2 separate regions of the Homo sapiens genome follow, and region 2 is linked to region 1. Evidence: fine-mapped QTL for protein levels in blood plasma. Region 1 holds a variant in brackets. A gene starts in the other region. All regions are shown on their reverse strands.

Region 1 (2,900 bases):
TCTTTCCTCTGCTGTTCTTCCCATTGTTCCTTTAACTTTCGCTCTTGTTCTTGCCGTTTTCTAGCCACCTCTTCCTTTTCCTTCTTTATTCTGAATTCTTCTTGTGCCTTCTGCTCTCTCAGCAACCACTCCTCATGTAATCTTTGCCTCTCTCTTCCCCATAGCTTTTCTAGTTGTTGTTTTTCAATAAAAGTGTCCTCCTCTTTCTGTGAGAGTCCTGAGTCCCTCAGTGGAGCAAGTTCCTGCTGGCGTTTCTTTCGTTTCTCCTTCTTCAGGGCGGCCCTGTACTTTTTGTGGCTTGGTTTCTCTGGAAATGTCACCTTTTCGGGCGCAGCCATCTTGCCGGCACCGCCCCGCCCCTCTAGTTGTATCCTTTATAATAAACTGGTAAACATTGTAACCGCAGATTCAGCCCAATCTGGTTCAACTTTGTGTAATAAAATGGCGAGTTGTTTTTCAGTTGTCGTGGACCCCCAGGTTGCAAGTTACATACCCTGGGCATGTCCAGATGAACGAAGCGTGCAAATCCACGTGGAACCTAAGTGCTCAGACCGAGGAACAGGGACTGAGTTAAGAAGTGGACACCACGTGGCATGATCCTTGATCCAATCAGATTGAGCCCTGGCGTGATCCAGTCAGATCAAGCCTCCTGAATCCCCTCATTACAAGATCCAATCATATCATGCCTCACTACCCTCTGTATATAAAATCTGCCCCAGCCTCCAACTTGGAGAGACAGATTTGGGCCAGACTCCTGTGTCCTTGCTTGGCTGCCTTGCAATAAATTTTTCTCTCTACAAAACCCCAGTGCTTCAGTGTTTGGTTTTCCACTGTGAGCCAGGGAACTGACCCAATTTAGTTCGGCAACAACATAAGCAAAATGTTTTCCCGAGTTCTCTAAATCATTCTAGGAAATTACTGAACTTGAGATGGACTTATGGGAAGCCACAATTTTTTGCCAGCCTGGCAGAAGTGTGGGTAGACAGTGCAAAGACTGTCTTTGCACCTGGCATCTGAAGCAGGGTCAGTCTTTTGGGACCTAGCCCTTTAATTTGTGGAATGTGGTGCTAACTCCAGGAAGCTAGTGTTAGAATTAGAGAATTTCTTTGGTGTAAATAAGACACCACAAACATCACTTCCTTTCTACTGATGTTGACCCCAAAGATGC[A/G]CCTTCATAAACAGCTTGCAAGCTAAATTCCGTCTTACTTAAGAGTTGACCTTCAACAGGCAGAGGAACTGTGAGGCTTGTTCTATGTCGTCTCCCAGAGGCTCCCAGGGGGATTGGACCCAATTGCCCTTTTCAGCTCATTGGTGCCTTTGTATTGGGTTCCTTCCTTTCCCTACCTGCTCCTCTTCATTCTTCCCATCCCCTGCTGATGCTTCTTGGAATCTCCTCCCAGATAAGCTACTTATATCCAAATCCTTGTCTCAAGCTCTTTAGTAGGGGAAACCCAAGCCAAGCTTATATTTTGATAACTACCAGGCATGGCTCCTTTTATGTGGGAGACAAGGTCTTGCTCTGTCACCCAGGCTGAAGTGCAGTGGTGCAATCATGGCTCACTGCAGCCTTGACCTCATGGGCTCCAGTGATCCTCCCACCTCAGCCTCCTGAGTAGCTGGGACCACACGTGTGCATCACCATATCTAGCTACTTTTAAAAAATTTTTTGTAGAGATGGGGTCTCACTGTGTTGCCCATGCTGTTCTTGAACTCCCGGGCTCAACTCATCCTCCTGCCTCAGCCTCCCAAAGTGCTGAGTTTACAGGCCTGGGCCGCTGTGGCCTGCCTGGTCATGGCTCTTCTCTATCAAAATGTTCTCAGGTATTCTTGTGCAATTTTTGGATGATTTTTGAGTCTACTCTGGCTTTAAAGGTTTTCATTTACTTGTGGAATAAGTCACGTGTGCACACAGAACCAAAACGTATCAATCTCTACAGTGAAAACTAAAGCTCATTCCGTCCCCGTTTTCCCATCTCAAGAGGTTACTGTCCCCACTTGTAGCTTTGCTATTTATTCCCAACTAAAGAGTATAACCTCTTTATTATATTCCAAATAATGAGCTTGTCAAGTTTGTTTTAAAATCTGTTTGGAAATCCTTCAACAGAATTTTGAAAATCTATCTGTGGAGTAGGTGGAGCCCAAAGGATTTTTATTTTTATTTTTATTTTTTGAGACAGAGTCTCACTCTGTCACCCAGGCTGGAGCGCAGTGGTGCAATCTCAGCTCCCTGCAGCCTCTGCCTCCTGGGTTCAAGCAGTTCTCCTGCCTCAGCCTCCTGAGTAGCTGGGATCACAGGCACCCGCCACCATGCTCGGCAATTTTTTTGTATTTTTCGTAGAGACAAGGTTTCACCACATTCGCTAGGCTGGTCTCGAACTCCTGACTTCAGGTGATCCACCCGCCTTCGCCTCCCAAAGTGCTAGGATTACAGGTGTGAGTCACCGTGCCCAGCCTATGAAATTTTCTTTTCTTTTACAAAGTAGATTCACATTGTTGTGTAACCATCACCACCATTCATCTCGCAAACTTTTTCATCTTCCCAAGTGAAACTCTGTCCCCAGGAAACACTGACTCCCCATTCCCCGTTCCCCAGCCCCTGGCACCCACCATTCTACTTTCTGTTTCTATGAATCTGATGACTCTAGGGACCCCGCATGAATGGAATCATACAGCCTTTGTCTTATTATGACTGGCTTATTTCACTTAGCATATTTTCCTCAAGGTTCATCATGTTGTAGCATGTGTCAGAATGTCCTCCCTTTTTTTTTTTGAGATGAAGTCTGACTCTGTCGCCCAGGCTGGAGTGCAGTGGGGCGATCTCCGCTCACTGCAAGCTCCGCCTCCCAGGTTCACGCCATTCTCCTGCCTCAGCCTCCCGAGTAGCTGGGACTACAGGCACC
Region 2 (2,900 bases), not on the chromosome of region 1:
GGGGTGCCAAGTCTGTCCGGAGCCTGGTGGGCTCCGAGGGGAGGGGCTGTCAGGGACACACAGGCAAAGGGATAACTGAAACCCCTTGCCTATGGGGGGAATGGTGGGGGCTCATCAGTGTTTGTTGAATGAATTAGTGACCTGAACCCAAACCTCAAGGCTGTTCTCCTGAGCTGTGTGCTGGGGCGGAAGGGGTCTTCTAGGGCTACAAGGAATATCCCTTTGGGAAACATCAGCCCCCGTTGCTAGGATGTGGGAGGGGTGCCACCGACCACACTCACACGGCCCCGTTAAGCACAGCCAGGTGGCGGGTGAGGTAGATGGTGTCATCCTTGATGGTCAGCAGGATGGACTCCACCCCGGCGGGGGCCTCAGCCTGGCCCGGACCCCGCTTCAGGTGCACAGCAAATTCCTTGTAGGAGCCTCGGCAGTCGGAGGCGAAGTTGTAGTCGCAGGGGCCGGGGAAGCGGAAGACGTCCCCGTCGAAGGTCTTGTAGTGGAAGTTGCCCCAGGTGCTGCAGACGTTGTGGCCGTGGTTTCGGGTTCTGCCCTCTGAGGGAGCAGCGGGGAATGAGGGGTGAGTGGCCCCGGAGGGGGAAGGCTGCCCAAGCTACCCTCGAGAGAAGGCCCCTGAAGAAGCACCTGGAAGCAGCTTCGAGCCCAGCACAGGGCCCCTGGCCGGGAAAGGTTCCTTCCTATCCTCGGGCCCTCTGCTGGGCCTTGGTCACCCCACCACAGGGGTCTCAGGGCTTCTACCCCCGGCCTGGTGAGGAGTGCGGCCGGGTGCCAAGCGGGATGTAGGAGAGGGCATTCTGGGCACCCCGCTCCCCAGCAAGGGCTGTGCTGCCCCAACTCTTCAAGGGTCTCTGCCACCTGAGAATGGGGCCTTCTGGTGGGATCCTGGCCACCCCTTCCTCCCCTATGGACAATGACCCAGTTCACTGGGGCCTGACCTGCTGTTTCCACCTGGTGCTGGCCCCAAGACCCACACTGTCGTCGGGCAGTCAACCCCAAAGGAATAGCAGGGGAGCCCCGACCTTCCAGCTCCTTGAAAGTCAGCAGGGCCGGGGGCTTCCAGGGACCAACCCGGGCCAGGAGCCTCAGCAGAGCCGCGCAGGCTGCACTCTGGGACCAGCTCCTCCTCCCAGACGCGACTTGCCCGCCCGCCTCGCCCTGCCCCCAGGACACTCTGCCAGGCCCCAGACCCCTGTGTCTGCTCTCTCACCTGTCTGGAGCTCCGAGCCCCCTGCCAAAGACAGGGCCAGGCACACAGCCGCCAGGCGGGCTAGTGGCAGCCCCATGGTGGCTGGCAGGGGCGGTGTGGGTTGCGCCCGGGGGCAGGGGTCTGGTCCTTATATGTCCTGGCAGGAGGGTAGGAGGGCAGGAAGGCAGGGGAGGGCCAAGGGTGGGTGTGGCATCTGCCAGATGATCAAGAAGACAGCTGCGGGGGCCCGAGCCCCAATGGGGAAATATTGATTCAGGTTATCGGAGGTCATCTCTTTATGGCTCCCTGGGTAAACGCAGCCTTCTTCAGGATGAGGCAGCCCTGTAGCCTGAATGCCAACACACACCCGGGGAACACATGCAGCTACTAGAGGGGCGAGCCCAGGGTGGCCGGGGGAGGGGTGTCCTGCCAGAAGCAAGTCTGGTCAGGCTCCTTAGCCCGCCATGGGCCCCCAGACACCCGCTGAGCAGGTCCCCAGGCCTGATCAGGCTCACGTTACGCTGGGAGGACCAACCCATTCCTGGGGCCCAAGCTCTGGGGCAGCTTCCAGGCCTGACCCCAGAAAGGGGCCTCCCCGAGGGCAGGGAGGATGTGGGATCCTTCAGGGTCCGGGGGGGCCACTGACTTGTGTGGGACTCTTGGCCGGGCTCATGGAGCTGTGTCAGAGGCCCCAGCCCCCAACCACCCCCTATGCCCATCCTTTTCCCAGGCTGAGCCCTTCTCTGCAGTTACATGTAATTAGAACTTGGGGAGTACATGCCCAGCCAGGGGACATGTTACGGAATCAGGCACACAGGGAGCTGGCTGGTGGCCGGAAGTGGCCGTCTGCCCCTTCTCCTGGGGACCACATGAGGACCTCGGGCCTGACAGCTGAGGAGGTGACAGCCTGCCCAGGCTCCCCAGAACTACCTCTGACTCATGGTGGGGATCCTGCCCCCAAGGCTGTGCCTTTGATGAGCCTTGGTCTCGCCCACCAATCCCAGCAGTTGTCTGGAAAAAAGCCTGGAGAACCGGAACTCACACCGACCCCAGACTACGAGACCACTGGGCCCACCACTGCTTGCCCCGGCCCGGGAGGGCACAGGCAGGCACCCCTGTGTCGCCAGTGGGTAAACTGAGGTCTGGGGGCCCTCCCCTCTCTCTACAATTTTCTCCTCCTGAAAATAGAGAGGGGCCCTGAGTTGAGTTCCTGGCTTTGGCCTGAACATGCCAGGGACATGCCGGCAGCATGATGGCAGTGGGGAGGGACTCACCCCAACAGTTATAGAGACTCGGGGCCCAAAGCACCAAGCCTGTTTCCCTGGCTGACCTGCTGCCCAGACCCAGGGCCTGGGACGAAGCCCCTCCCGCCCTCCTGCGGTGCCCGCCAGCACCAGGCCCCAGGGTCTGCGCTCCCTGCCAGGACCTGGGCACGTGGAGGAAGCTCAGTGTGTGGCCCCTGCCAGGAGGACCGGGGATTAGGAAACCAGAGCCAGCTGGGCGAGGCCAGAGGAGATCATTGTTCACTTCCTGGTGTGGGCCTCCGCACACTGGCACTGAGCCCTGGGGAAACCCAAGGACGGCCCCAACTGCAGTCCCCTGACCCTGACATGCCCCAGGCGGGCCTCAGGACAGAGATTTTCCAGGCCAGGCTCCCCCTGCCCTGGGGGGATTGGAGGAATCCTAGCGGAGCACA

Direction of the effects. Alleles are on the strand shown, and positions count from the first base shown. The strength of an association depends on the size of the effect and on how common the allele is.
With allele A in place of G in region 1, the plasma level of the protein whose gene starts at base 1,329 in region 2 is higher (weak association).

What was found. PIP is the chance, under the fine-mapping model, that this variant and not a neighbour inherited with it causes the effect. Protein levels are from antibody-based Olink assays in UK Biobank. Linkage for the fine-mapping came from a reference panel and not from the study's own genotypes, which makes the PIPs less certain.
Region 2: MUC2 starts here. The variant in region 1 is fine-mapped to the plasma level of the MUC2 protein (UK Biobank, PIP 0.92).

The regions. Positions count from the first base shown.
Region 1 is chr19:7,737,895-7,740,794 of GRCh38, reverse strand. CD209 (CD209 molecule) reads left to right here. Exons shown (of 7, transcript NM_021155.4): 7 at 1-802. It also overlaps the pseudogene LOC100129391. Among named protein-coding and RNA genes, the nearest start is that of CLEC4G, 7.2 kb to the right of the region's middle. The variant A/G (reference allele first, on the strand shown) is at 1,169.
Region 2 is chr11:1,073,303-1,076,202 of GRCh38, reverse strand. MUC2 (mucin 2, oligomeric mucus/gel-forming) reads right to left here and starts at 1,329. Exons shown (of 58, transcript NM_002457.5): 1 at 1,226-1,329; 2 at 282-552. The coding sequence starts at 1,301. LOC107987157 (a long non-coding RNA gene) reads left to right here and starts at 2,769. Exons shown (of 5, transcript XR_007062544.1): 1 at 2,769-2,900.